4 linked regions of the Homo sapiens genome follow. The protein of the gene in region 3 interacts with the protein of the main gene of each other region in a biochemical or structural test. Each region holds a gene or a part of one and is shown on either strand. Other genes may lie near its edges. The genes, in order: PPM1D, USP24, RUNX2 and ETS1.

Region 1 (9,405 bases), on a different chromosome or scaffold from region 3:
TGTTTCTTTTTGAGACAGAGTTTCATTCTTGTTGCCCAGGCTGGAGTGCAATGGCACAGTCTTGGCTCAATGCAACCTCCGCCTCCTGGGTTCAAGCGATTCTCCTGCCTCAGCCTCCCAAGTAGCTGGGATCACAGGCACCCACCACCACACCCAGCTAACTTTTGTATTCTTAGTAAAGACAGGATTTCACCATGTTGGCCAGGCTGGTCTCAAACTCCTGACCTCGGGTGATCAGCCTGCCTCGGCCTCCCAAAGTGCTGGGATTACAGGCACATGTCACCACACCCAGCTAATTTTTGTATTTTTAGTAGAAACAGGGTTTCACCATATTGGCCTCGAACTCCTGACCTTGTGATCCACCCGCCTCGGCCTCCCAAAGTGCTGGGATTACAGGCGTGAGCCACCACACCCAGCCTAAATGCACAGAATATTATTCTGACACCACAGGTGTGCTGGCTTCCCTTCCCCTACTTTCTTCTTGAACATTTCTGAAGGGAATTCTCTTTTTATTGGCATTCTGTGGGAATACATTGTATCTGTTAGCACAGGCAACTGTTTAGACTTCTTAGATGTACCCCAGGTTAATTTGTATTGCTAAGGCCTGCATGTTCGTAAAACAGTTATGTGATATTGAGGTTACCCCTAAAAATACATACTTTAAAAAAGTTCACTGCTTCAGAGATCAACTTTCTCCTCCCATCTACCCTGTAATCCAATATTAAACAATTAATTACAAACTGTGCCTAAAATGCAACTAAAACTAAGTTTTAATTTTCTGAAACTCTTTGCTCTCTTCCCCATTCCGTTCTTAAAGATCTTAGCTTGTAAAACATAGCTAAATTTAGTTTTGCCCTAAACAAAGGACAGAGAAAGAAATGTGTGTCATAGTAATCTATCTTACTTAAACAAAGGCTTTTCCACTATCTCCATCCCAAAACAAAGACTAATTTATGTGAGAATTCAAATGGAAGCTGACATGTTTACAGACAAATCTAGTCTCAAATGCCTTGTCTAAATGTGATTAAGTCTCTGACTGTTCAACATTAACCACATTATAATTAAATTTATCTCTATGTTACTAAACATGAGACAACTTTAATAATGATGTAAATTAAATATAGTCAGGAGTACTCACCTTTATGTCAATTAAGGTAAATAAAACAAACCAAAAACAATTTCTTGGGCAGAAATCTGTCTTTTGTTAGTTGTTAGATCAGAGCCAACAATACTAATTATTCTGAATTAACCTAAATATTTTCCCATATTTGGGCAGGGCCAATGGGTTAACAAATAACTATACCTGCATATGGCAAACATACGTCTTCTTATCTTTACTTTAGTAGTATTATTAGGTCATTATCAGAATTATTATTATTATTATTATTTGAGATGGAGTCTTGCCCTGTCAGCAGGCTGGAGTGCTGCAACGCGATCTCAGCTCACTGCAACCTCTACCTCCCGGGTTCAAGCGATTCCCGCCTCTGCCTCCCAAGTAGCTGGGATTACAGGCACGAGCCACCACATCCAGCTAATTTTTTGTATTTTAGTAGAGATGGGGTTTCACCATGTTGGCTAAGATAGTCTCGATCTCCTGACCTCATGATCCATGTGCCTCTGCCTCCCAAAGTGCTGGGATTACAGGCGTGAGCCACCACGCCCAGCCCAGAATTTAAGGAATTTTTTTTTTTTTTTTTTTGAGATGGGGTTTTGCTGTTGTTGCCCAGGCTGGAGCACAATGGCACGATCTTGGCTCACCGCAACCTCCGCCTCCTGGGTTCAAGCGATTCTCCTGCCTCAGCCTCCCAAGTACCTGGGATTACAGGCATGCATCACCACACCTGGCTAATTTTGTATTTTTAGTAGAGATGGGGTATCTCCATGTTGGTCAGTCTGGTCTCAAACTCCTGACCTCAGGTTATCTGCCCAACTCAGCCTCCCAAAGTGCTGGGATTACAGGCATGAGCCACTGTGCCCAGCTTAAGTAATTTTTTAAACGTATTTTATGTATGGGTTTACTAATGCCAGTCAGCAGACTGCAATAATTTTTATTTGAGGTCAATATTAAGAATGCCCTTTTGTTCCTCACACTATTCCCCACCCTAATGTCTCCTCCTTCTCTATACTGCCTAAAGGTCAGTTATAAGGGAACATGAAAGTAATAATTACATACAAATATTCAGAAATACGCAAATATACAAACATAAGCTCTTTCACAGCTTTGAAAAGAGAATAAAGAGGCTTTAAAGGGTTTCAACCTGCATTACCATTCATGGTTTTCAAAGAAAAGAAACCTTTTGTGAATGAAAATACTTCATTTCAGCCAGGCCTATAATACCAGCACTTTGGGAGGCCGATGCGGGTGGATCACCTGAGGTCAGGAGTTCAAGACCAGCTTGGACAACATGGTGAAACCCCATCTCTACTAAAAATACAAAAAATTAGCAGGGCGTAGTGGCGGGCACCTGTAATCCCAGCTACTTGGGAGGCTGAGGCAGGAGAATCACCTGAACCTGGGAGGTAGAGGTTGCAGTGAGCCAAGATAATGCCATTGCACTCTAGCCTGGGCAACAAGAGTGAAACTCTGTCTCAAAAACAAAAAAAAGAAAAAGAAATGAAAACATTCCATTGTATCTGGCCATATGTGGTTTTTGCCATATGTATGTAAAGTGAAAGAAAGCAAAGCAGTAATAATCCATTTCCAAGTATTGACTATAGGATTACGACGCCCAAAATTAAAGGCCTTTGACACTTTAAAAAACTTCCTGAATAGGTGACATTAGATTTCCCTACATTTCCCATTTTAATGGTCAGTCTACTGAAAACACATTCTCAGAAAGCCAGGTTAGCCATGCTATGTATTAAAGCAATTATCAATCAATACTGCTAATTTTTGGTGGGAAAAATTAGGATGAAAACACAACCAAGTATTTGAGTTCTTAGTAAATCAAAAAAGTATGATATCTACTTAAAATTTGCTTATTTCAAAGCATATCTTAAACTCAATCAATATTAACATGGATAAGAAATAGGAATAAAGTTTCTTATACGAGTTAACAGACAACCAGTTGTAACGTCTGCTATCCTCAGGTCCAGCTCAATTTTGATTCTCTATGACCTTGTTTAGACAGTTTAATCTCTCAGGCTTATTACTGATAAAATGAAATAATAACATTAGCTCTACTTCTGGGCTACGAGATTCAAATAAAATATATTTAAGTGCTTCACAAACTTCTAAATGCTTTAAAAATAATGTTCATAGCATTAGATGGCAAACAATAATATTCTTAAGGGCCCACAATCACCTTTTTATTAGTGCTGTACACATGGCTGGCATTCAGATTAGTATTGATGTAAAGATGGCTCTCTGATAATAAGTTACATCACTTTCTTGAATCGAGTTCAAATCCAAAATCCTGTAAGAATTTAAAAATTGTTTCCAGGTGACGCTAACCAAAGAACTGGTGTCTATTAAAACATAACTTAAAAACTATGGAACTATATACCTTGACTGGTGGTGTAGAACATGGGGAAGGAGTCATCACACAGGTTTCTTGACTATTATAGGAAGGGCTGTCAGTCAGGTTCAGGTATAACTCATCTTCATTGGTAAAGTTTCCCTGATTGTCCACTTCTGGAGAGATGCAGATTACTATGGCACTAGTGTTATCTGCTCGGAGCATACGCTGCCTCCAGCGGCCCAATGCTCGATTCACAAGCATTTTGGCACAAGATTGTCCATGCTCACCCTGTATTCAAAAGAACAAGGAGAAGGAAAGTAACTCAGATTTAGCTGCCACTACATCTGTATCTATATCAAATTAAATATTTGGTGTTCGCTGTGGCCCAAACAAAGCTCCCAATTTTTTTTTTTCTTTTCTCTTTTTTTTTTTTTGAGACAGAGTCTTCCTCTGTCACCCAGGCTGAAGTGCAGAGATGCAATCTCGGGTCACTGCAAGCTCTGCCTCCCGGGTTCATGCCATTCTTCTGCCTCAGCCTCCCGAGTAGCTAGGACTACAGGCGCCCGCCACCATGGCCGGCTAATTTTTTGTATTTTTAGTAGAGACGGGATTTCACCATGTTAGCCAGGATGGTCTTGATCTCCTGACCTCGATCCACACGCCTCTGCCTCCCAAAGTGCTGGGATTACAGGTGTGAGCCACTGCGCCCAGCCAAAGCTCCCAAATTTTCAAACATTATCCCCAGTCTCCTTAGCCATGTTAAAATAATACTTTTCTAAATTCAAAAAATACTAATAAAACAAGGTTTTATCCTGTCATTAAATTTCACTATTTTTATTTTTATCAAGAAACTCAGCCTTCACTGTAACTTTATTTAGAAAAAGTTGTCCAGACGCAATGGCTCATGCCTGTAATCCCAGCACTTTGGGAGGAGGAGGCGGGTGGATCATGAGGTCAGGAGATCGAGACCATCCTCGCTAACATGGTGAAACCCTATCTCTACTAAAAAAACAAAAAATTAGCCGGGCGCGACGGCACATGCCTGTAGTCCCAGCTACTCAGGAGGCTGAGGCAGGAGAATCGCTTGAACCCAGGAGGCGGAGGTTGCAGTGAGCCAAGATCAGGCCACCACATTCCAGCCTAGGCAACAGAGCAAGACTCCATTTAAAAAAAAAAAAGAAAGAAAGAAAAAGAAAAAAAGAAAAGAAAAAGTTATAAAGAAGTTACTTAAAAAGAAAGTAGCCAGGTGTGGTGGCTCACGCCTTTAATCCCAGTACTTTGGGAGGTGGAGGCAGGTGGACTGCAAGGTCAGGAATTCAAGGCCAGCCTGACCAACATGGCGAAACCCCATCTCTGCTAAAAATACAAAAATTAGTCAGGCATGGTGGTGTGTGCCTGTAATCCCAGCTACTTGGGAGGCTGAGACAGGAGAATTGCTTGAACCTGGGAGGCGGAGGTTACAGTGAGCCGAGATCACGCCACTGCACTCCCGCCTGGGCGACAGAGCGAGACTCCGTCTCAAAACAACAACAACAACAAGAAGTAAACATCAAGTTATTTAAGAAAACATAATTCACAAACAAGACAATCAGGCATGGTACAAAAAAAAATCATTGCAAAGGGTCAAATTCCTTCTAACATAAGAGATTCTGCAAATCGAAGAAAATGACTCAACATAAAAATTGTCAAAGAATATAAACAAAATCCAGAGAAAAGGAAATATAAACAGCTCATATATATATATAAACAGTCAATGTCACTCATATGAGGAAAAAGTAATACAATAACTGCTTATAGTATAAAGAACAAATATATACCAATTGAACGAGTAAAGAAAACAAAACCAAAAGGATCTCATTTTATGCAAATAAATGTGGCTTGGAATAAAACTTCCAGTGTCATATATGAATTTAAAATCTGCTAGGTTTCACAGAACAAAAGTGAAAATGATGTACTCCAGGAAATAAGCCTACATGTATTTTTTTCTTTCTTTTCTTTTCTTTCTTTTTTTTTTTTTTGAGATGGAGTTTTGCTCTTGTCGCCCAGGCTGGAGTGCAATGGCAAGACCTCGGCTCACTGCAACTTCCGCCTCCCAGGTTCAAGTGATTCTCCTGCCTCAGCCTCCCAAGTAGCTGGGATTACAGGCACCTGCCACCATGCCCAGCTAAATTTTTTTTTTGTATTTTTAGTAGAGACGGGGTTTCACCACGTTGGCCAGGCTGGTCTTGAACTCCTAATCTTAGGTGATCTGCCTGCCTCGGCCTCCCAAAGTTCTGGAATTACAGGTGTGAACCGCCGTGCCCGGCTGCCTGCATGTATTAAAAGTACCCATAGAAATAAATGACTAATGAAAATGAGTGGAAAATTTTGTTTGTTGTTTTTTGAGACAGGGTCTCACTCTGTCACCCAGGCTGGAATGCAGTGGTGTGACCTCGGCTTACTGCAGTCTCCACCTCCTGGGCTCAAGTGATCCTCCCACCTCAGCTGCTTGGGAGGCTGAGGTGGGAGAATCAGTTCAGCCCAGGAGGTGGAGGCTGCAGTGAGCCGGGATCGCACCACTGTGCTCCCAGCCTGGGTGACAGAGTGAGACTCTCTCTCTCAAAAAAAAAAAGCATATTATTTCAATAGACACTGAAAAAGCATTTCGTAAAATTGAACATCACTTTATGATAAAAACCCAACAAAAATAAGTATAGTAGAAATATACCTCAAAATGACAAACTCACAGCCAACATCAATACTGAATGGGGAAAAAAATTGAAGGTCTTTCCTCTAAGGACTGAAACAGACAAGGATGCCCCACTCTCACTTACTGTTATTCAATACAATACTGGAAGTCCCGGCCAGAGCAATTAGGCAAGAGAAAGAAATAAAGGGTAACCAAACTGGAAACGAATAAGTCAAATGAGCCTTGTTTGCAGGTAACATGATCTCATACCTACAAAAACCTAAAGACGCCACCAAAAAACTGTTAGAGCTGATAAATTCAGTGAAACTGCAGGATACAAGATGAACATACAAAAATCAGCAGCATTTACATATACCAACAGCAAACAATCTGAAAAAGAAATCAAGAAAGCAATCCTATTTCCAATAGGTACACAAATTATAAAATGCCTAGTAATCAATTTAACCAAAGATGTGAAAGATCTATAAAGGAAAACTAGAAAATACTGATGAAAGAAATTGAAGAGGACACAAAAAGATACAAAGGTAGTCCATGCTTATGGATTGGATGGATTAATATTGTTAACATGACAATACTACCCAAAGCAATTTAAAGATTCAATCCCTATCAAAATTGAAATGACATTCTTCACATAATTTTTTCTTTAAGCTCAGAATTCATATGAAACCACAAAATATCCTGAATAGCCAAAGCAATTCTAAGCCAAAAGAACAAAGCTGGAGGCATCACACTACCTGACTTCAAAACTATACTAGAGGGCTACAGTAACCAAAATAGCATGGTACTGCTACAAAAACAGACACATAGACCAATGGAACAGAACAGAAAACCTATGTATAAATCCACGCAATTTGCAGCCAGCTCATCTTCAACAAAGGTGCCAAGAGCAACAATAAATGGTAGGGGGAAAACTGGATAACTATATGCTGAAGAATGAAACTATACCCCTATCTCTCATCACACACAAAAATCAAATCAAAATGGATTAATGACTTAAATCTAAGATCTCAATTAGTAGAATTGGTAACCACAATTCTATTCCCTCTGTGAGATCTACTTTGATCTCACAAACTATGAAACTACTAGAAGAAAACAACATTGGAGAAACGCTCCAGGACACTGTTCTGGGCAAATAATTTTTGCATGAGACCTCAAAAGCACTGGCAACCAAAGCAAAAATAGACAAATGAAAATACAAGCTAAAATGCAAAGGAAACAATCAACAAAGTGAAGAGAGAACCCACAGAATGGGATAAAACATCTGCAAACTATCCATCTGACAAGGAATTAACAACATGTAAGGAGCTCAAATCAGTAGCAACAAAACAAAACAAGCCCCAAATAATCCAATTTTAAAATGGGCAAAAGATCTAAAATACACATTTCTCAAAAGACATACAAATGATTAACAGATATATGAAAAAATGCTCAACATCACTAATCATCAGAGAAATGCAAATCAAAACCACAATGAGGTATCATCTCACTCCAGTTAAAACCACTTGCATCAAAAAGATAGGCAACTACAGATGCTGGTGAGGATGTGCAGAAAGGGGAACCCTCAGTGTTAGTGGGAATGTAAATTAGAGCAGCCACTACGAAGAACAGTATGAAGGTTCCTCAAAAAAAAAAAAAAAAAAAAAAAAACAGAAGTAAACTACCATATGATCCAACAATTCCACTACTATACATATATCCAACAGAAAGAAAATCAATACACTGAAGGTATATCTGCACTCCCATGTTTATTGCAGCACTATTCACAACAGTCCAAATATGGAATCATCCTACGTCAATTCCATTTAATACATGAATGGATAAAGAAAATGTGGTGTATATACACATACACAATGAAATAGTATTCGGCCATAGAAAAGAATGAAATCTTGTCATTTGCAGCAACAGGGATGGAACTGGAGGACATTATGCTAAATGAAATAATCCAAGCACAGAAAGACATGATCTCACTCATATGTGGCAGCTAAAAGAGTAGATCTCACAAAGAGAGAGAGTAGAATTGTGGTTACAAGAAGCCAGGAAGGGTAGTAGGGAGAGAGAGATGAAGGGTGGAAAAAAAGAATATAAATGGATTTTTTACTATTGAATTGTACAATTTCAAATAGTACAAATAGTAAATGTCATATGTATAGTATACTTCGAATTTTTTAAAGTGTGTTTTAAAAATCTCTATTTTTAAGTGTAGTTATGTCCACTCAAACTTTTTTGTGCTTTTCTCTTGAACTAGAAACAATCAATCATGCCTTATGTGTCTTCTTAAAAGACTGCCCTTCTGGGTTTTGTGAATCTCCCTAAATAATTAATTTCTGCTCTATTATTTTCAACCTCCTACTTTGAGGGGTTTTACTATGATATTCTTTTTTGTAACTCTGACTGGATCACTTAGATTGTTTTCTTCATGTAGAATACCATGAGCCTTGTGTTATGGATGCATCATTTTATGTGCCACAAACGAAATAAAAAACACTGTCGGCTGGGCGTGGTGGCTTGGCATGGTGGTTCACACCTGTAATCCCAGCACTTTGGGAGGCCGAGGTGGGTGGATCATGAGGTCAGGAGATGGAGATCATCCTGGCCAATGTGGTGAAACCCCGTCTCTACTAAAATAAAAAAAATTAGCCAGGCATGGTGGCGCGCGCCTGTAGTCCCAGCTACTCGGGAGGCTGAGGCAGGGGAATCGCTTGAACCTGGGAGGCAGAGGTTGCAGTGAGCTGAGATCGCGCCACTGCACTCCAGCCTGGCAACACAGCGAGATTACATCTCAAAAAAAAAAAAAAACCAAAAACACTGTTAATTGAACTGTGATATACCATTTGTAAAAAGTATTCCAATTTCAGAGATATTAAAAGAAAATATGCACCTCAGAATTGATTAAAGGCAGCATTAATCTCTAATTCATGAATCTATCACATTCCCTACGGCATGTGGTTCCACTCTCCAAACACCAGCTGACTGAGCCCTTACCTCTCACTTTTTCAGTGTGCCTGTTTCCCTTCCCATCAATGCTCTATGAAAACAATTATATAAACCATTTTCCACTATCTTACCTGTATATTTTTCCCTCAGCTCACTAGAATTCTGCTGACTTGAGTCCCCCTAATATTGTGTGCTCTTAAACCACAGAGTCTCTCTAAGTGCATATATTGCCACAATTTACGCAACTCTTGTTAACTGTTAAATTAGTATTTCCACGCTTCCCTCCCAAGTTTTTATTTTTAAAGAGATGAGGGTCTCACT
Region 2 (6,506 bases), on a different chromosome or scaffold from region 3:
CACACCCTGACAGCTCTGTGATGTTGGAACAACTTGGTTCTTGCAGAGGGTTAGCAGGTGGTCACCAGGGATCGGGGAGGAAGGGGTGTGGCTTGCAGGAAGGCGAAAATCTGGACTAGCAAATAGGGAAGGGGACCCATGTGAGCAACGCTGGCCACTAGGAATGAGACTGAGACCTGTGGGATCTAGCAAGAAGCCCAGTGTGACCAGCGACACGATCTATGCTGGGGACCACTTGGGAGAGCCAAAAGCTTTGGTGGAGATGAATGGAGACCATCAACCTAAGTTCAGCATCCTCCTCTAAGCTTTGCAGATGAATCCTGAAATGGTCAGCCCCTCCAGAGAAAAGAACAGCAACAGGCTCAGAGGACCCACAGTCCCCTTTATTAGTGTAAAGTACTAAGAGGAATCAACAGCATTTAGCACCAGGCACAGGCTCGTGTTCCCCCGCCCACTACGGCTGTGTTCTGATATATGAAGAATGGCGGCAAGACTCCAACTCTGTTTTTGAAAAATTTATTTTATACTCTTAGAAGCTAAGAACTTTGCCACACATGAACCAAATTTAGAATTAAGGTTCTTCCCTAGTGTATCTACTTCCTTTTGAAATTTTATAAACAAGATTTTATACACAAGAGGTAGCAGAGGAAAATTCCAGTCTGCTTGTTCCAAGCTCAGAAGGTAACTGCACACACCTCGATGTTAGCAGGGAAGGTGGGGCAGGACAGGGTAAGTCTGATGATACGGCACTCTAGTTCCTAAAACTGACTGTAGTTGTCAGTGACCGTGTGAGGACTCCAGGAGAAGTCGTGGTGAGATGCCCGCTGGGATGCTTGTTTTCTTTCCCAGGATGCCTTCAACGGGCAGAATCGGCCATCTTAAGATCGGCCTCACTAAGGGAGCTTCTTGAGAACACACAGCATTATTGAGTTAATTGTGCAATTCCTGCTCTGTTTGCAGACCATTTTGAAAGGTTTATAAAAACATCTTCATCCAAAAAATTGGCAGTAAAAATGACAACTCTTCCAAGGTAAGCCTGTCATAACTGTCACTGTTGTACTACATTAAAAAAAGTCATCAGCAGGTTCATTGACTGTAGCTGTCAGCAATCAAGTGGTTACCAGCAAAGTGAAAACGATGGTCATTGCAGCAACAATATAAGCAACATGATCTGAAGCGTATAATATACACGGTGGACGATCCTGATGAAGCTTTACAGTGAGGACGGCAGGTGCTAGGGGTGCGGAAGGCGTTGTTTCCATAGGAAATAAGGGGACTAGAAGTGGCAATTTCACTCCTGATTTTGGGCTCCTGAGAGTGCAGTCGCCAGCGATGATATCCCAGTGTGGATCATCGCCAGCATTTCAAGGTCATGTCCCACACAATCTCTTGGTGAGGATGTGGGCGGAGAGAAGGTGAGAATAGGGTAGGGGAAACAGTAGGACAGGAAGTATTCACGTACTCAAAACCAATGGTAGAACATCACATTTCAAACTGCAAGACCATTGGAACCGTCTGAAGTTTGCCACTCGCCTCTGTCCGTTTCTCTAAGGGTACAGTTCTGCTCTTAAGTGCTGGCCCTTCCATCTTCTCAGTGTGTTTGACAAAGGCCACTGCCAACCTCCAGCAAGTCACAGAATAACAATGAAGTCTGACAGCACAGAAACCCTCACTGCCAGAGAATGAAAAGACTGGGCCATGGCGAGAGCACAGTAATGAGATGCCATCTGCCTGGCCACATGCCCACACAATGCCACAGCAGCCAGACAGGCACTTCAGGGCTGGCTGCGCCTCTGTGACTTGGCAAATCTGACAGTGAAAACCTGGCACTTCCTAAGGCTCCCTAGTTCTGTGCATGGTGAGATGAAAATAAGGCAGGACCTGTAACTAAAGGCAAAACAGGGCCGAAAATGTGAGCAATTCAAAATACAAAATGTACAAAATATATATGAAATATGTGGGTGTAAACCTCTCCCCCACACCATAAAAGGGAGCTGGTATAAATGAGTGAATGGTGCTATACTTTGGAAATACGACTAAATGGATGGTTATTCAATTGCTTTATATTTATTTCTGGGAAAATAAATCTTAAACCTTGACTGACTTTTCAGTGTTAATTAGTCATGTTGAGGAGAAACAAATTCTCAAATTCCTTCTCTGCATTACAATAACTATGAAACTCACAAGCAGTGTGTACCAACTCAAATAGTTAACTTCATATACAACCAATACCAAGGGTTTCAGTAATTATGTTTTAAGCAAAAGCAAACGATTGCAGATCACATGATTTAAGACTACAGTTTATTCAATATGTCTCCAAGCATTAAAAAGATAATTCTGTGAAGTTAAACTCAGTAAAATTATATCTTAAAGTGCTTTTATTTTGCTGTTTTTAAAATCTGTTTGGGGAACAACTCATAACTTCTTTAAGTAATTGATGTCAAATAATGCACCCTGTACTTCTGGAGAACACAGCATTTTCAAAATTGCTCTTTTCAATCTAATTATATCAGAAAAATATCTTCAAGAGCTTAGTATTTCCCAATTTTTGATCCTGATCCTGGTAACCTTTCATCAAGATCCAAGCTTATGCATAGGGTTCTCATCTAGACCCATCTGAAATTCTATACAAATAGGGAGACATATTAAATACAAAGGTCTGTGTAAATTGACTTAATTACTATTTTACAATGAAAAGGAATTTTATTACATCTTTACATCATTTTAAATTGGATATTCCTGTTTAATATTACTGCAAGATTAAAAATTTGCCCCCACATATCTAAAAGCAGCTTGCTTTTTCTTAAAATATAAAAACCAAAGGAATTTCTTTTGTAGCATCGTAGAGAAAGCAACAGCTTTATGCTCACTCTTGTATGTTCGTGTAACAAAAAAGTCTGCCACTGGCTCTATTTCCGAAAATCTCCACAGAAATGTGAATCCACATATAGACCACGCTCCCGGGACAGCTGATCCACATGCCGGAGTTCTCCCACTGCCAAACAGCTCCCAAACCTTCTAGTGGCTTAAAAATGCTTTCCTTGAGAAATACACGATCCGCCCAAGTCACAGCAGCTTTCCCAGTCCAATCTCCAGGCTCTTCCAAAGGGTTCGAGATTCTGATTCCAAGAAGGTGCTGAGCATCCAGTATTGTGTCTTGACTCCTCTCAGGCTGGGCATGTTCCTCTAGGGATCAACATCATCAAGGTCACTTCTCAACTCACCAATCATCATGGGAGATTCTGAACCCTGCAGAAAAGAAAAGGAAGTTAAAGTTCATACGGTTAGAGAAAAGGTTTTCTATGCTGACTTGTGTTCTGCAATTTAAACATGTCTTCATCTGGCAACTTAATGCAATGTTTATCAAAGGGTAATAAAATGTGATAACTATTACATCTAATATTTGACAATTCATGATTATGTAAAACATGTACATTTCTATGATCTCATTTAGTCAGTGAAACAACCCAGCGACTTGTCTAAAGTCACAATGCTACTCTGCACCCATGTGAGAACGCAGAGCAGTGATAAAGCTGGGAGAGGCATTGATGGCCATTGTGCCCGCTTCACGTTGGGCACTGTGTGAGCCTCCCTGCCCTGCACCTGCCAAATATGGGCTCTGGGTCACTCCTGGGTCTGAAGGCTACCTCTGTTACCATCTGTGTGGCCTTTGGCTTACACACTTGGCGAATCGTTCTGAATACTCACCGTGTGCCATGGGGCTGATCTAGTTGGAGCTGGGGTGGGGAGGAGCAAGGACAGTCTCTCTAAAGTGACAACCTAAGCTGAGTGAGAGTTGGGGGTGAGTAGGGGGGCCCTGAGGTGGAAGGAAGAGAGTACATTTGATAAATAAAATTCAGAAAATGGGCCAGGCACAGTCGCTTATGCCTGTAATCCCAGCTACTTGGGAGGCTGAGGCAAGGAGAATCGCTGGAACCTGGGAGAAGGAGGTAGCAGTGAGGTGAGATTGCACCACTGCACTCCAGCCTGGGTGACAGAGCAACACTCCATCTCAAAAAAAAAAAAAAAAAAAAAAAAAAAATCAGAAAATGGGGGTGGGGAGGTGCGCAGGTGCTAGATCAAGCAGGACTGTGTTGAGGATTCTGGCTTTTCTCCTCATACAAAGCCTTTGAAAGGTTTTAGTGCATGAACCAGAGAGAAGCAGGGGTGGAGGTGAGGGGATCCTTACAGATGTAGGCAGAGAGGGGCTGATGACAGGTGGAGGAGAGGGACGAGCACCCTTTCAAAGGGAGCTGTCCGGGATGACATGGGGGTGCTGTGTGTGAGATAAGGAACACTGACGGAGGGCCAGCTTTGGTGGGCGCAGGGAGGAGGGGCTGGGCACATCGAGTCTGAGGTCTTTAAGGTATGCCAAGTGGAGAACGTCAAGAACAAGAGAGCTGGATGTTCATGTTCAGAAATCCAAGGTGGGTGCGGAGAGAATATGGAGTGAGGGCAGGAGGATACAGGTTAGAGACTCCACAAACCTTTACTGGTGGTCCAGAAGAGGCAGTACTAGGAAGGAGACAGAGAAGGAACAGCCAGAAGGGTTTGAGGAAAACTACGAGAGAGAAGTGTCAGGAAAGCCCTGGAATAGTGTTTCAAACGGGAAGAGCGCCAGGAGCGCTAGATGCTGCCGAGCAGTCGGCTAAGATGAGGCCTGAAAGCTGCAGGCCACCTGTCACCCCAACTGCTGAGTTGGAGAGAAGAGGGAGTTAGCAGGGAAGAGGCTGAAGAGCGAGTGAGAGATAAGAAAATGGGGAAAGTTAAGTTTAGAGAATTAGTCGAAGTTTGGCTGCAAAGAAGAGAAAAGAAGGCAGGGGCAACAGGGAGAAGAGAGGCTTTGACAGGGCAGAAGAGAGGCTTTGACAGGGCAGAAGAGAAACCAGTGTGCTGAGACGTCGCTGGGAAGGGTCTGGCAGGGTGGAGCGTTCTGGATATTGAAGAGTTACATACACATTAGAACGCAAAGCTCTGCCAAGGTGGGCGGGGATGAGCGCTAGGGGCTTTGGGTGGACAGAGGCAAACTTCCCACTGTCACAGGAGAGGAGACAAGAACAGTGCAGATGCTTGGGAATTAGTGGCCGCAGGAGCTCTCCTGTGACAGCTTTTATTTTCTCTGCAAATGAAGTAGGTGATGAGGTAATGTGTGGAGTGACCTTGGGCTAAGTCACATCACTGTGCTGGGCTGCAGTTACCTTTCTGTAAAATCAGGGTGACAGCTGCCTCACATAGTGCTTATGAGGATCCGAAAGATAACACTTAAAAAAAAATGACACCTACTACATCAGTAACATTCATTTAATGGGGCCTATTCTGTACCAAGTACTGTGAAGGGACCACAGAGGAGACTGCTGTTAAGGAAAGTTACAGACTATTGGAAAGACGTAATGATTAACTGACACTTAGTTCAGTGTTTGCACACAGTGGGTGTTCAATACATATTTATTTTCTTTTTCTACTATAATGATTGGTATTAAAGCTGTTTTTTTTTCTTTTTTTAAAAATACATGTCAAAATTTTCTTGGACTCCCCTGGCAAGCAGGTATACTTCAAGAGCACGGGAGCTTTTCTTTCAAGAGTCCACATTTCCAGGAAGGCTGGTGAGAGCAAACGAGGGACTTTCAGTAACCTGGCAAGGCAGAATAAAGTGAACAAGCTGGAACGAATCCCCCTGTGCCCTGGCTTCATCGGGACTACCTGCAGGCTGATCAGGGTGGCCAGCCACAAACACCTCGAGGCCTTCCATTCACTTCACACTGCAGCACTACTCAGCCCTGTAAACACACGGTTAGTGCATATGCTGAGCTGAGATCACTAGAGGGCAGCGCTGGTAACTCTTTGGACTCACATTCCAGAGGAAGCATCTTGTTTTCCCTCAGCTGTGGAAATTCTTTTTGGAAAGCTTAAGAGCAAGGCTGCCCTTTGCACACAAGGACATGCTGACCGTTATACCTGCTGTAGATGCCTGTCTCCGTTCTCATTGGCAGGACTACTCTCCGACCCATTACTGCTTCCTGATTGCTCTTTTTCATTCAACAAAGCTGTGGCATACGCTAACGTGTCCTGCAGAAGATTCAAACACAAGACGACAAAGTTAGGGCCCATTCAGTGGCAGCAGCAACCGCCAGGGAAGACTACCTTTCATCTGACCTTCAGTGGGACCGGAGGCCTGAGAGTGAGGCCTTCATCACAGTCACCAGAACCCCCTCAACCCCTGTCCCTTTTTGTGACCAGACTGCCCAACCTGTATGACTTTCCTTCTAGACAAATAATCTGCACAAATTTGTGTAAGTGTACACCAATCTGTTTTCTTTTCATAGAAATCCAATTGTTTCTTCTGCTTGTTCTCATCTTCAACTCATACCTCTCTTCTCAGAGGTTGCAGTTTCTGAGAAACACACTGAAAATCCTCCATAAGTGATTTAGACCACGCAAAAACAAGAGACAACTCTCACCTGAGCTGAAATGGTTCGCTGAAAGGTTTTTCCAGTTGATGTTTCATT
Region 3 (5,658 bases):
GAAATATTGCTAAGCAATTTCAGTTCATCCAGGCACAATGTGATTTTAAAAAATACTTCCATCTCCAAATATTTTAGATATAGATTGTTTTTGTGATGTATGAAGGAAATGTTATGTTTAGTTCTTTCAGATCTTTGAATGCCTCTAACACAGCTTTGCCTTCTAAAGCGGTAATTAGGGATTTAAAAAACAACCTTTAGCCCTTTATCAGCATGAAATGCTGGAGTGATGTGGTTTTCTAATTTCTTTGGGGTAATTATGACTCTTGTCATATTAAAAAGACAAGCACAAGTAAATCATTGAACTACAGAAAAATGTTCTGTGGTTTCATAGTTAAGCAAAACTCTAAATCGCCAGGCTTCATAGCAAAGACATAGTCAGCTAAAAGCCGCACATGTGGATAGAGGGTTCAATTATGAGACACCTAGTACAGGAGAGCAAAATTGCACCAGAGATTCTTAACCAACCAGCCTTACCAAACAACACAACAGGGGAACCCCAATCTGCCTTACCCAAGGCCCCACTGGCAGCTTTCCACAGAATTTGCATTTAGAGGAGCAGAATGACATCACTGTCCTTTGGGAGTAGGTCCTCTGAAAAGGCAGCAGGTTCCAGCAGGTAGCTGAGCTGAGAGGACATATGGCCCACGGGGACCTACAGACAGCCTTTGACATTTGTATTTCTTACAATGGAGGGCCAAGGAGGGCAAGGGGCTGTGGAGTTTGGTGTCTACTAGTGTGTATGAATTTGAGCTAGAGTCCTTCTGTGGCATGCACTTTGACCACTCCTGGCAGTCACATGGCAGATTTCCAAGTGCAAATCCTTAATCCAAACAAGGATCATCTAATGACACCACCAGGCCAATCCCTGCTCTCCTCCCCGAAAAGTCAGGGTCCCTTCATTGGAATCCTCCACCCACCCAAGCAGAATTTAGCAGAGATTTGCCTTCAAACCCTAACGGCCCCCTTGTTCTCTGGTCCTTCTCAAACCCACCTTTGTAGGCCACCCAGCATTGCAGGACAGCGTGTGGGGCAGCTGGACCTGTGCTTCCTGCCTGGGAGTCTCCCTTGGAATTCATCCTGACTCCTTCTAATAAAAATGGATGGGAAAGCAAAACACTTTGCCTTCTAAAGGCCGTATACCAAGTATGCTTAGATAAATAAGCCACTTTTCTATTACTTAAGTAAGAAGGAAGTAGTAATTGATACTATTTATTGTTTGTGTGTGGTAGCTTGAAGCACACCACTGTCCATTTATTTGTAAGTGTAAAATATGTGTGTTTGTTTCAGCAGCACTTAAAAAAGCCAGTGTCTGGTTACACATTTCAATTTTAATTAATTGACATAAAAATGCTACCGCCAGTGCCAGCTGCATCCTATTTAATTAAAAAGGTACTATATTTGTACATTATTTTTTAATGTTAAAAGGGCTTTTTTAAGTTTACAGTACACATACCGAGTGACTTTAGGGATGCTTTTGTGTTGAAATGTTACTATAGTGGCTGCAGGCAGCAACCCAGAAACACTTTAGAAGCTTTTTTTCCTTGGGAAAAATTCAAGCACTTCTTCCCTCCACCCTCACTCCAACCACCCCAATGGGGGTAATTCACATTTCTTAGAACAAATTCTGCCCTTTTTTGGTCTAGGGATTAAAATTTTGTTTTTCTTTCTTTCTTTTTTTTTTTTTTTCACTGAACCCTTAATTTGCACTGGGTCATGTGTTTGATTTGTGATTTCAAGACCAAAGCAAAGTCTTACTACTACTGTGGAACCATGTACTAGTTCCTGGGAATTAAAATAGCGTGGTTCTCTTTGTAGCACAAACATTGCTGGAATTTGCAGTCTTTTCAATGCAGCCACATTTTTATCCATTTCAGTTGTCTCACAAATTTTAACCCATATCAGAGTTCCAGAACAGGTACCACAGCTTTGGTTTTAGATTAGTGGAATAACATTCAGCCCAGAACTGAGAAACTCAACAGATTAACTATCGTTTGCTCTTTAGACGGTCTCACTGCCTCTCACTTGCCAGAGCCCTTTCAAAATGAGCAGAGAAGTCCACACCATTAGGGACCATCTGTGATAAATTCAGAAGGGAGGAGATGTGTGTACAGCTTTAAGGATTCCCTCAATTCCGAGGAAAGGGACTGGCCCAGAATCCAGGTTAATACATGGAAACACGAAGCATTAGCAAAAGTAATAATTATACCTATGGTATTTGAAAGAACAATAATAAAAGACACTTCTTCCAAACCTTGAATTTGTTGTTTTTAGAAAACGAATGCATTTAAAAATATTTTCTATGTGAGAATTTTTTAGATGTGTGTTTACTTCATGTTTACAAATAACTGTTTGCTTTTTAATGCAGTACTTTGAAATATATCAGCCAAAACCATAACTTACAATAATTTCTTAGGTATTCTGAATAAAATTCCATTTCTTTTGGATATGCTTTACCATTCTTAGGTTTCTGTGGAACAAAAATATTTGTAGCATTTTGTGTAAATACAAGCTTTCATTTTTATTTTTTCCAATTGCTATTGCCCAAGAATTGCTTTCCATGCACATATTGTAAAAATTCCGCTTTGTGCCACAGGTCATGATTGTGGATGAGTTTACTCTTAACTTCAAAGGGACTATTTGTATTGTATGTTGCAACTGTAAATTGAATTATTTGGCATTTTTCTCATGATTGTAATATTAATTTGAAGTTTGAATTTAATTTTCAATAAAATGGCTTTTTTGGTTTTGTTATGTGTGTACCTTGGGTCTTTTCTTGTTCACGGTTTCTCCCTAGTCTGATGTCTACTCCTGCTTACACCTGGGCACTGTTTGGTCTTAGGACTTGCCAGGGCTAGTTAAGAGAAGAGATGCTATATTACTGGGGAGAAGAAAAAAAATCTTGGTAAACGGTGTCTTCTTGTTTTGTCCTGTTCCTAGCGAGGGGTGGGCAAAGAATCTAGCAGTGAACTCACTTCCTTACTAGCTTGTGTCTGAAGGAAGGAGTGCTCACCTCATCCTTGAGTAAGGCCATTTATTCCAACTGGGGGACCTATCAGGCGTATAGATGCAGTCTCGATGGCTTCATGATTCTAATCTCTGAGAACATGAACAGGGCCCCGCAAGTGAACCTCTGGCTATCAACAGAAGATCTCAGGCAGCCCAGATATAGGCTAGTCTGTTTTCCTTTCCACATCTCTTTTGGGTTCTTAAAAATAAAGTCAACCAAAGCCCAAGGATGAGTAAAAACGGACCTTGGCCTGGAGGGCTATAGCCTCAGAAGAATTCTCCTAGTGAACATAACTATAGTTTGGAGATTTTTTTTTCCCGTGGCCATTGTTTATTTTTGGTAAGTCCCCCCCCTTGTGATAAGGTTGAAGACCTGGGGTAGAAAGGTTGCTTTCTCTGTGTCCTATGCTTTCTGAATGCTTGGGCTCACCACAATTCTAAAATAGGGACCCAGGAAAACATGGTGCAGAGAAGGTCAGCCAGTGGCCAAGCTGACCCACATCACAGGGAGAGTTAGAGACCTTGAAGATCTGCTCATTCTTAACCCTTTGGCACTATTTTCTAAGAAATCTTGGAAATAGTTAAATTCCAAGAATAGGAAATGTCCTGAAAGCACTTGGGTGAGCTTAAGCCAGGGAACTTGTCTGCAACTCTGAGGATGTAGATTTATTTATTTAAAAAAAAATCAAACATCTGTGTGACTTTAAAGGGCATTCACAAGGGAGGTGGTCACAGTGGCTTGCTTTCTGTCTCCAGTTTTCTCTATCAGGATGGTCTAGGGCAAATCCCTTTATTCCTCTGTGTCTCAGTTTCTTGGTTTATGAAAAGGCATTGGGCTAGATCTTGGCACTATTGACATTTCAGACTGGGTAATTCTTTTTGTGTGTGTGTGTCAGGGATGCTCTCCTGTGTATTGTAGGATGTTTAGCAGCATTCCTAGCCTCTACCCACTAAAAGTTAGTAGCACCTCCCTAGTTAGGACAATCAAAAATGTCTCCAGATGTTGCCAAATGGTCCCTGGGTGGCAAGATCACCACCGATTGAGAACCACTTAGCTAGAGGCTTTATTGACAGAACTGATATGAGAATACATTGCTTATTAAATCAGAGTAGCCAGGCAGAGGCTGAGGGACTTCCCAGTGATGGCTACACCTCAACCTTTTCCATCCCTTCACTTGATTTGGATGTATCATGAGGGCTGCTGTTGGCTTTTTCGTCTGCACCTCTTCACTCCTCTCTGCAACATGGGCTGTGCAGCCAGTGAACAGCCCAGCTGTGGGGCTTTGTTAAGCCTGGATTGGTTGGCCATATTTATCATGGCCTGTTTCTCACTGAAACGGCAGGCGGAAGAAGAAAGCAATTTCTGCAGTGTTTTTGACCCCTGGTGTCCCCTATCCCCCAAATATTTAATCATCAGGCATTTCTGCAAGAGTGGGTGTTTCCTGTTAACTCAATCCCAGCCGGGACTGGCCCAATAAACACCTCAGGTCTCTGTCATAGAGTTTATTTGGCTGGGAAATGGGTATTGCCATGTAAACAGGAAGGCCCCTGAAGTTATTATCTACAGACGCAGTGGAAGAGCCGCATGTTTATATTTATGGGACTTGAAAACAGTATGAAAGGCAAGGGAGGATGTCAGGGAAGCCCTCATTGGCAGTCAGTGAGAGCAGGTCCTACAGCTCTTTATTAGTTAATTTTTCATTCTCTCTGGAAATGGTTGGTAAACAATAATGACCTAGCCAAGAGCCACTGCAGAAATGGAGGTACTGGCTTGCCTGTACCTAGATTACCAGGTTAACAATAAGAAATGCTATCAGTTGGCCTCTCTGTCCTAACTATTCGAAAATTATTTTAGAGATCAGTCCTAGGAAGCAACAATTTGGAGGTATCTAAAAAGGATGCTTATGAAACAGTGTCACCATCTCTAAGTTCTTCTGGGGAAGTGGAGGACAACTCAACTGACTGCTCCAGTTGTAGTGAGTGTGGGCCAGCTCACCTGTGAAAATCCCAAGCAAATTCTCATGCATTCACTCCTTAGTCAGTTTCTGTGAGGCTGGAAAGGACATCTTCATGCAAGAGTTCATAACACCTGAGCTGTCCAGGTATTGGTACTGGGAATCAGGCTTACACCCTAGGCCTATGCACCCCAGGTATACTCCAAATTGCTCCCAACCCTTCTCGGCTCTTCCATTGTCTCTCTCCTCTGGCCCGGAAAAGGTGCTAAGAAAGGCCAGGTAGGAACCAGTATGTGGAGAGCTGATACTCTTGATTTAAACTCTGGGTTCTGAGCAAAGGCAAGGGAGTCTTTCCTTCCTCACCACCATTGCTGTGGACCCTGAGAAGCCTCTTTGTGTCTTCTTAGGGGCTTCTCAGCGGTAACTACTCAATCAGGAGGCCTTGGAAAGGAAATTTTAAAAAGTTATGAATCAAAACTTACCAAGGAAAAGGATCCAGTGAAGACGCAAAGGGTAATACACCAGGGATGTGTGTGTGTGGGCGTGTGTGTGGTGTATGTGTGTGTGTGTGTGGGGTGTATGTATGTGTGTGTATATGTGTCTGTGGTGCATGTGTGTATGTGTATTTATGTGTGTGGTGCATGTGTGTATGTGTGTGGTGTGTATGTGCACGTATATGTATATGTGTGTGTATA
Region 4 (9,405 bases), on a different chromosome or scaffold from region 3:
CTAGAGCATAGTTTTCTCTGCACCACAAAAACAGAAGCAAGCACTGCCAATTAGAGATAATGTCTACCTCCCAAGGCCACAAAGTCATTTTAGAGCTACCTCTGCCTTTCCTTTCTCTTCCCAATTAAGCAGCACATCTCCCTTCCTTTATCACTATATTCAACTGCAGTCTAGTTCTTTAACCCCTAACAGGTATAACTGCATGAGCTGGCACTCTTGTACTTCCTGAGAGTGACTTAATACACTTTTCCTCATCCCAGACGTTTTTAATGGAAATGGATATACTTCCTAATAATCTCCTTTCAAAGATGGGAAAGGACTCCCTTGAAAAGTACTAAGTTCCTACATGCTAGCCATGTTCAAGCAAAGACCACCAGGGTATTGTAGAAAGAATAAAGTAAGGACCTTTAAGTTCCATTCCTGGCCTTGACCTTGTTGCTACTCCAACATGTAGACATAATTCCTGAGCACTACTCATGCAATGAACTGCACTAGGAGCTACATGGAATGCAATATAAGAGAGATACTCCTGATCTTTGAAGGAGGAGTAAGTTTTCAAGCATTTGAGTTGTTCTCAAAGGTCACTGGTTTTCTTCATAAAAGACCTAAGGCTTCCCTGAATGCAAAAATAAGGATTCAGCATACTCTAAGGATCAGAGAGACACCTCAATAGAAACACAGATCTTGCTGTTTGTCATCATCCACACAAAGGGTCCCTACATGAAAACATATCCAGGGTGGAGAGAATTATAAGAGAATAAAGGCCTAGACCACATCTGAGTAATCAAAGCTACTTTAAAATAAGCTCTACTCACAACACACTTTCTAATTTTTAGAAAACACTACAATCTTACAGAGAGATCTGATGATTAACACATTAATGCTCCTTGGCTATTTCTCAGATATACTCTCCACATGTTTTTCTGGTTAAGTAGCATGATATGCTACAACCCATTTGAAGAAAGCATTGTTTTGCTCTACTACCAGAGTCTCAATCAAAGTTCAAGCTCTCAACCTACATCTTCCTTTCTCTATGGCCTTTCTTCACCCATCACTATCATAACTATAGCTTTCGCTCCTGGAAGAAAACTGATAATAAAGCCGAGTAAGAGAAGGGGCATTCTCTATAGGCCAGGATGGATCTGGACAGGGCGTAGTGCCACTGAGGATACTGTTCCCACATTTGAACAGCTGGCCTAAGGAGAACCGTGCTGCAGAAGAGTCCAGTGCGGAGGCCATTCAGTTGTGCCTTTGAGAGATGCTGCTGCTGATTTTGTATTTAGAAAGACCTCCCAAGAGCAGACCAGGAAAAATCCCCTGATGCCAGGCCACTAGATAGAGTTTCCAGGAACACCAGATCATTATAGTTCCCTTCCCCCAGACATGGAAAAACACCCAAAATGTAAGTTTCCTACCATTCTTGGAAATGATCCCTTTGAAGAGAATGATACTATTTGCTTCCAAAAATCAATGGCTATTCACAAGCAGAGTGGCTGGAGAGAGACTAAAGAATTCTTAGAGAGACTTCTCCCCCGTGCCCTGCAAAAGGGAGTCTCTCGTCGTCTCTGGTCAGAGGTGCAGAGTGCCTTCCAGGACCCCACCCACAGAAACGTGCAGATGGAGTTGGCCTAAGCAGCGGGAGGGCGCCTACCTGTGTAGCCAGCTAGGGCAGCAGCAGGAATGACAGGCTTGTCCTTATTGAGGTCAGCACGGTCCCGCACATAGTCCTTGAAGGTGCCCTTGGGCTTGTGGTTGGGCAGGGCAGCCGGATAGTCCTCTGAGTCGAAGCTGTCATAGGAGGGAACACGCTGCAGGCTGTTGAAAGATGACTGGCTGCTCCAGGACTGGGTGAGGCGATCACAACTATCGTAGCTCTCTATGCTTTCAAAAGAGTCCTGGCCCCCGAGTTTACCTGGAGGTAAAGGAGGAGGTAGGAAGAGGACAGGGGGAGGAGGGAGTGGGAAAAAAAAAAAACTGTAAAAACCCTCTTATGGAGGACAGATTGCTAATCAGATCTGCAGGAAGGACGGAAGAAGGGAGAGGCGAGTGGGAACAGAAGCTTCAGGGGTCATGGGTTTACTCTGAGGAAAGGGGCTGCACTAGGCCACCATCCGAGGGTCCACGGCCACTCTGCTGCCTGGTTTGAGAACTCCAAGTACAGAGATTCAGAGTCAAACGTTGCTCACATCTGTCGGAGTAGCGTTTGGGTCCTCAAGAGTTCTAAAGCCAGAAATCTAGAAGCTGAGGATCACACATGTTATGATATGATTTCTGGCTGATGTCGTAGGCCCAATGAATAAATGAAGAAATCAGAGCAATGTCAGGCTGAATTCCCCACTCCAGCTCAAGCCAATGAGATGACTTCAAAAGGCCCAGTTTGGAAAACATTTTGGTCATAAGAAAAAAGAATCCCATTAGACTAAGAGCAGATTAGCCTGTTTTGACCTTGGAACTAAGTGCTATTTTTTAGCATTTTTCCCAAATACTATTTTAATATGAAATACATGTACTGACCCTATGCCTTTTCAAATAGAGTAAGATGGTGTAAGATGCTTTTCCCAAGAGATTTTTTAAAATCACACACACTATCACTCTTCTAAACAGAAAACCATATTCTTTATCCTCTCCAAGTAAAATTATGTACTTGAAATTTAAACTTCATTGGAAAAGTGTAGGCAATATTTAAAAGGTTTATTAAAGAGTTAAGGTCCACAGCAGTGTCAGAAATCCTTTACTGTGTGAGTTGCTTAAGGCATTCTTAACTGACCACAAGATCATGCAAGTTCATTAATTTCCCAAACCAGGTTATAAACAGCTGCTATGATTGCACAATAGCTCCTGGAGAAATTTCCATTGGCAAAAATGCCACTAAAAAGGAGGCTAGCAAAAAAAAAAAAAAAATAGTTTTGGAGGAAAACAAATGAATCTAAGAGCGAAAAAGGCTCGCAGGAATGGTTTTTATATGCAACTTTCAGATACTTTTCAAGTAACCTAAGTTAAATCATAGGAGACTAGATGGTCACCTCAATTCAGCACAGGCCAAAAGGCAAAGGGATGTGACAAATGTTTACGGAGAAATATCCGTAAGTCAACTCTTAATTGTTCAGGGGTGGTTGATCTATAAATTTCAAATCCCAGAATAAGGCTGACTTATACAACTTCATATTAGTGTGCCTCCAGTGTATTTTTCCCTCCATGACAGCGGAGATTGGTTAAAACAATAAACATCAAACATGAACAGATGCCCAAACCTAAATTAAATATATAGGAAAATATGTTGCTCCCAACATTGTTTAAAGATCCGGATAAAATGTATTCGGTTGAGTGTGTACTTTTTGTAAAATCCACTGCTGTGGGTTTTCTCTACATCCTGACCCCCTCTGGAACTGCTTTAAACAGAAAGGTGGTGTCATCCGTTTCATCTCATTCCTTCCTCCACTCATCCATTCAGAGGAGGGTAATCTCTGGAAAGCAAACTGAAGAGCTTCATGGAGTTATCAGCCCTGCCCACCCAGTCCACTAGCAAAAGGGCACCTCTTCATTCTTACTAAAAATGAATATATATTTCTTTATAATTCTTAAAAATTCTTTCCCATTTACCCACCAGAAAAGTCATCTTTTTCACCTTTTTAGAGATCATTTAATTTTCTTTCAAGAAATTCACACTAAATGATTTAAGAAAACAGCCTACAACCAGAATGTCAAAGCCTTGTTTTAGCAGAACAGGAAATTCTGTGGCGTCTCATAAAAAGGTATTTGTTCATACCAGCTACTGATCTTCATGGTCACTTATTTTCTCTTTGAGACAAACATACCAAAAGCCTAAGAAGGAGAATTTATATTTTCATCAACACCGCACCAAGTCGATAGTATTTATGCTAAAGTCTCTCTGAAATGATTCCATTTCTATCAGCCAATTTTATACTTGGAGAAAAAGGACATCAGAATTTTCACAAGCAAGATAGTAGAGTTTCCAAGGAGTCCCACTAAGCAAGGGGACTAAACCAAGCCAGAACCAGTCTCTGGCAACCCCCCAAACATGAGGCAAATGCAACCCTGTTGAGAGTTGTGGTTTACAGCGGTAGGCAGCTTTCATTTTAGCTCGATTTCACAACCCTGGTGCTGGGAACCTTCATTTACGGGTATTTTCTCCAAAAATGGGTAGAATCCAACTGGATTAGATACTCAGTTATGCTGCTGCGCTCATGTAGGGAAACCTGTGTTCTCTAAACTGTCCACTAGCCAGCCTTTCTGAGAAGGGCCTCGGCGAGCTCCTTCCAAAGCTATCTGAGTCCACCAAACAGACCTCAGAGCACTCAAAACAGAAGATGCGGCAGCACCCAGCCACCCACTGAGTAGACTCGTACAAAGACAGTCCTTAGGGCCCAAATAAGTGGGGCATAGAAGCACTCTGTACGCTGTAATGCAGCCCGTGAATACTGTACTATGGTTAGTATAAATAACAATCAGCTAACAGTAATGCTTTCGGTCTAGACCAATCACAGCATCTCAGAATCAATTGGCCCTTTGCATAGGCCCTGTTTGCAGCACTTCTAACATGCAGAAAACAGCCCTGCACAAAATGGTCTTCCCCTCAAGTTTCTGTGGCCTGAACTTGGAGGGAGGGAAGAAGAGTGGAGCCAGAAAGAAATACCTCATGTCTCCTTGTAAGGGTCACTTTTGGTCCACAGTCATTAGTTTGGGGTTGGAGGGGTGGTAGGGACCAAAACCAAGAATGAAGAAAAGGAGAGGGAAAGAGACAATTACACAAATGCAAAGCCAGATGCAATTTCAAAACAATGTGACAGGAGATCGACCCAAAGTTACAACATGGCTGAGCCCAAACCCACAGGCTTGGCCTCACTGTGTAGATGTACAGAAAGTCCCACAAGGAAGAAAGTCGTTTTAATGCTTTGACTCGCCTGATAAAAAAGAAACACATGTACACACACTTGTGTGTATGTATTTAAATAGACATGCACCCAAAAATAAAAAAGAGCCAGAAAGGGGAAGGCCGACTGGTCCCACCCATCCCCTTCGGTCTGAAACACTAACACCCTGGGGCCTTAAGAAGGAAGATTAGGGGTTCTGATTTTGCAGGGACTTTCCCTCTGCAGGGCTTGTTGGTGATCCCTAGGCCTGCTAGGAGGAAGTGTGAGTCTGAATACTCGAAGAAGACGACAATGGGCATGACCCATGATTCTTCAAAGTAAAGGTACCATTGGGCTCTCCTCCAAGAGCCTCACAATAGGCACCGCATATGGTCAGTCATTGAGCAGAAATCACTAATAGGCCAGCCCCAGCCTGACATCTGACCCAAGCCCCGCTTGATCAGCTTTCTCCTGTTCCTCTTCCCATTTATAATTCTTTCCCATTTACCCACCAGAAAAGTCAGGTTTTTCACCTTTTTAGAAATCATCTAGCTCTTGCTAAATAGACAAACCCTTTCTTACAATAGATTGCATTTTTCTCAGAAACAAAACAATCTGGACACTTTACTAGGTAGGCTGTACCTCTGAGTGTTTATGTCCTGTTCCTAAAAATTGGGTGCATTTTACCTTTTTTGCTTTATGTCACCCAGCTCTATTTTTAAACACTTTCTTCCCTGACAGTGAATATTTTATCACTATTATAATAGTCACGTTAACAAAACTACCTTCTTTTGGAAACCCCTGGCCACCTCCGTCCCTGGTCCTCTAGCTAAATACACACTTCACCACACTGCTGATGACTGGTTCCAAATAAACCGTTGGTTAACCATCTTGTATCTTCCCAAACCGAAAAAGTCACAGGAGGCTAAAGATCCCAGGCTGGCCAGCAGAGGTCATTCCAGGTACCCAGCTAGGATCTACAGTCAGACCCAGGAGTCCTCTGGGAGGAGCACCAGGACACATGCTAAGCTTAAGGGTTTTCCAGGGTGGCCACTTGAACCATTTTTACTTGATTATGTCCTCCTCAAGGAAAATAGAGCATACCTTTCAAAATGACCAAATTCAACTAGAGTTATTGAGTAAAACATTTTGCCCAAGTAAGATATTTAATTTCTTAGATTGCCTGATTTTGATTTCACTGTGGACCCCATGGCCTTTGTCATAATAATGGACTTGGCTAAAACACCACGATGGAAAGTTCTTAGTATCTGGACACTCTAAGATGGGAAGGCTGAAACTGAGGAATCTACAGGTCTAATAAATAAGAAAAAAAAAATGGAACCTGAAAAAAACTCACAAAGTCAGGTAATTCTTGTAAACCCAAGAGCTTTTAGAGAAGAAATATGACCTACCACGACTGGTCCTCCCCATGCACATGTTGTCTGGGGTGACGACTTCTTGTTTGATAGCAAAGTAGTCATTCTGCAAGGTGTCTGTCTGGAGAGGGTCTCGGAGAATGACCGAGGGGTAGTCATTCTCATACTTGAGGGAGAGGAGCTCTTCCGAGCTGATGGGATGGAGCGTCTGATAGGACTCTGTGATGAAGCTGGGCTCTGAGAACTCCGATGGTGGAACACACTGGGCATGCTCAATACCATAGCCTGGAAACAAAGGGTTTGCAAGTAAAGAGAGGAGAGATTTGTACCTAAAATAAGCAGTTTTCACCATCTACAGGGCCCTATGATGTGGGACAAGCTCCTTAGAGAATAAGGGAAAATACTTTAAATCAGAAAAGCTTGCATTTTTAACCTTGTCCACTACTAAACAGCTTTAGCCCTTGACAAGGTAATTGATTTCCTGACTTCATATCCTCATCTCTAAAATGGGGGTGATTGCGATTTTTCCCGGAGCACTGTGATGAAGATGAAATGAGGATAGAGGTCAAATGCCCACCAACATTCCCCACACAATAAGCTCTTGACACAGAGTAGTTAATATCATTGTGTCACTGGAATAAAAATTGTAATAACGTAAAAAGATAAAACGAAAAAAATAAAACCTGTTTCATATTCCCTGTAAAAGCACAGCCATCAGATAAGATGGTCCTATATCTCAGAGCTTACATTAGTGCAACAGGCCTACATTCATTGTTTCCCTCAGGCCATCTCTTCAGTATGGTTGGGTATCTTACACGAAAAAGGAGAAGACTGTATTTCCTATAATAGAATTTGAAGCTGCATAGCACACTCTTAAAGAAGGATTTTGGAGGAAATGCTGTTATCTCCACTAGTAAAAAGGAAAGAACAAAGACCAAGATCAAATCCCTAACCCAACCCTCTTTTGGCCATCGTAGTGCACAGTATCAAATAGGAACAAAAGTTTAGGGGTCTAGTTGCAGTCTCTCTGCATGACTTTCAGGTGAAGACATCAGAGAAGGATCCTAGTGTGTAGGAACTTGGTAGGTTAATGAAACATATATATAGGTTGAAACTTTGTGCTTTGTGGAAAATAATAAAATAAAGTAACAAAGAAGAGTCTACATCTAAGAAGATATTATTTTTGATAGAATTACCATGAAGGAGCCTGAGATTCACTGAGATAGGGGTCTTTTCCTAGTTTGCTATTATCATGAGAGAAGAGGGGTAGAAATGAACTTACTAATGAAGTAATCCGAGGTATAGCGGGATTCTGGATAGGCTGGGTTGACTCCATTAACTTGATATGGTTTCACATCCTCTGTAATGAACAGATAGGGAAGGAACAAAGAGGTCAATATTCAAGTCATGCTTGGCCTAAAAGGATCTTGGATGCAAAGACCACAATGATCTCAACCCCTTTTCTAAGAAATCTGCATACTCATTAACTGGGTTGGTATCTGAGTCTGTCCTGACTGTGGCCTTGTCTAAAGATGAGATCAAAAAAATATGACTAAGGTTATTATTTCAGTAGCTGCAAAATGGGATTTAGTATCTTGGAAAGAGAATCCATGAGTAATCTCTAAGGGCTCAGAAGGCATTCAGCATTCATTCTCAATGCATTCGTGCTGCGTGTATGTCGACCACACTATAGCCAAAGGCTTGAGTACATCCCAGGTTAGCAGGATCAATCCCCAACCCCCAAACTAATCAATTTCAAAATTTCTCAAAAATATATTGCAGTCTTTAGGCCATAGATTTTACGTTCTCCATTTCCTCTAACAGATGTCTGGTTTTTGTTTTGTATTTTTCCCATTGCCCTCAGGTTTCAAGTTCAGGCCCAGACAAGAAGCAGGACACTGGTAAGGTGACTCCATTTGGTGAAATGCGACTGCGCTTGTGTCAAGGGAGAGAAGAGCAACCCAGTCAAGCTCCTGCCCAGATGCCAACTCCCCTAGGAAAAGGAGAGGAAGGGAGACGAAGTGCACCTGCGGACAGAAAGCTCTGAACGACCCTGCAGTAAGCCTGGGATCCTCTAATTACCCTGGAACAAATGCCATGGCTCCGATTCTTGTATGGAGTAGTCTGATTATATTTCACCATAAGAATCTGACATAGAGTATGGGTTTGGGTTTTTCCTCAGGTATTTGATAGCTTGTTAGGAGCAAAGTCTGATGGGAAAACAAGTTTATGCCTGCACAGAAAAACAGTTCCCAGTTGAGATAAAATGATTAAACTTTGCTTTAGCAGTTTATCAGATTGAAACATCCCCGTACCTTTCACCTTCCACCCCACCCCAAACAGCTATGTTCTTTTGCTGCTGTGTTGCTTTAATTACAGAACAAAAGCTGTAGCCTCAGCACAAACATCATGCTCATCTCTTCAAGTAACTGAACCTGAAGAGGGAGAATTCTTTCTGCCTCTCTCAACAGAATATTGGGTGGGAAGATATGACTTTTGCTCTCAAACATACTGACTTATATCCTAATTCTCTTAAATTTTCTTACATTATTCCTTTACCCTAAGTGAGGCCAAACCAGTCTTAGCGGCCAGAAGGCCCCTGTGAATCCACATTATTATACAAAAAGCACAGGATGGGATGTTAAATTTTAAGTTAAATAAAAATATATTGAGGGCAGGCGCGGTGGCTCACGCCTGTAATCCCAGTGTTTTGGGAGGCCAAGGTGGGCAGATCACGAGGTCAAGGGATCAAGACCATCCTGGCCAACACGGTGAAGCCCTGACTCTACTAAAAATACAAAAATTAGCTAGGCATGGTGGCATGCGCCTGTAGTCCCAGCTACTCAGGAGGGTGAGGCAGGAGAATCGCTTGAACCTAGGAGGCGAAGGTTGCAGTGAGCCGACATCGCGCGACTGCACTCCAGCCTGGGTGACAGAGCAAGACTCTGTCTCAAAAAATAAATAAAATAAAATAAAATAAAAATATACTGAAAGTTGAAATAAAATGAAGAAAAGGAGATGAGTGATACTGAAGAAATCGCCTACCCTGAGCTTCATTTTACAGACAAGGACAATAATAGGACTTGTCCTTACTATCTCACAGTTATTTTGATAATCCAAAGAGAAAATGTATTTGAAAGCACTTTGGAAACAGGGAG

Evidence for each region.
Region 1: of the proteins of RUNX2 (region 3) and PPM1D, one has a biochemical effect on the other in vitro, tested with the Homo sapiens proteins (one study listed by IntAct).
Region 2: of the proteins of RUNX2 (region 3) and USP24, one has a biochemical effect on the other in vitro, tested with the Homo sapiens proteins (one study listed by BioGRID).
Region 4: the proteins of RUNX2 (region 3) and ETS1 form a complex in vitro, tested with the Homo sapiens proteins (one study listed by BioGRID).

Annotation. Positions count from the first base shown.
Region 1 is NC_000017.11:60,650,943-60,660,347, reverse strand, and holds part of PPM1D (protein phosphatase 1D), read right to left. Parts: intron 3,750-9,405; coding exon 3,507-3,749; intron 3,417-3,506; exon of another isoform or gene 3,306-3,416; intron 709-3,305; exon of another isoform or gene 420-708; intron 1-419. UniProt on the Homo sapiens protein: Involved in the negative regulation of p53 expression. Required for the relief of p53-dependent checkpoint mediated cell cycle arrest.
Region 2 is NC_000001.11:55,065,859-55,072,364, forward strand, and holds the end of USP24 (ubiquitin carboxyl-terminal hydrolase 24), read right to left. Parts: coding exon 6,459-6,506; intron 6,067-6,458; coding exon 5,956-6,066; exon of another isoform or gene 5,701-5,955; intron 5,601-5,700; exon of another isoform or gene 5,540-5,600; intron 3,250-5,539; coding exon 3,187-3,249; 3' UTR 501-3,186; downstream 1-500. UniProt on the Homo sapiens protein: Ubiquitin-specific protease that regulates cell survival in various contexts through modulating the protein stability of some of its substrates including DDB2, MCL1 or TP53.
Region 3 is NC_000006.12:45,548,330-45,553,987, forward strand, and holds the end of RUNX2 (runt-related transcription factor 2), read left to right. Parts: 3' UTR 1-2,753; downstream 2,754-5,658. UniProt on the Homo sapiens protein: Transcription factor involved in osteoblastic differentiation and skeletal morphogenesis. Essential for the maturation of osteoblasts and both intramembranous and endochondral ossification.
Region 4 is NC_000011.10:128,478,540-128,487,944, forward strand, and holds part of ETS1 (protein C-ets-1), read right to left. Parts: intron 7,608-9,405; coding exon 7,530-7,607; intron 6,533-7,529; coding exon 6,284-6,532; intron 1,913-6,283; coding exon 1,652-1,912; intron 1-1,651. UniProt on the Homo sapiens protein: Transcription factor. Directly controls the expression of cytokine and chemokine genes in a wide variety of different cellular contexts. May control the differentiation, survival and proliferation of lymphoid cells.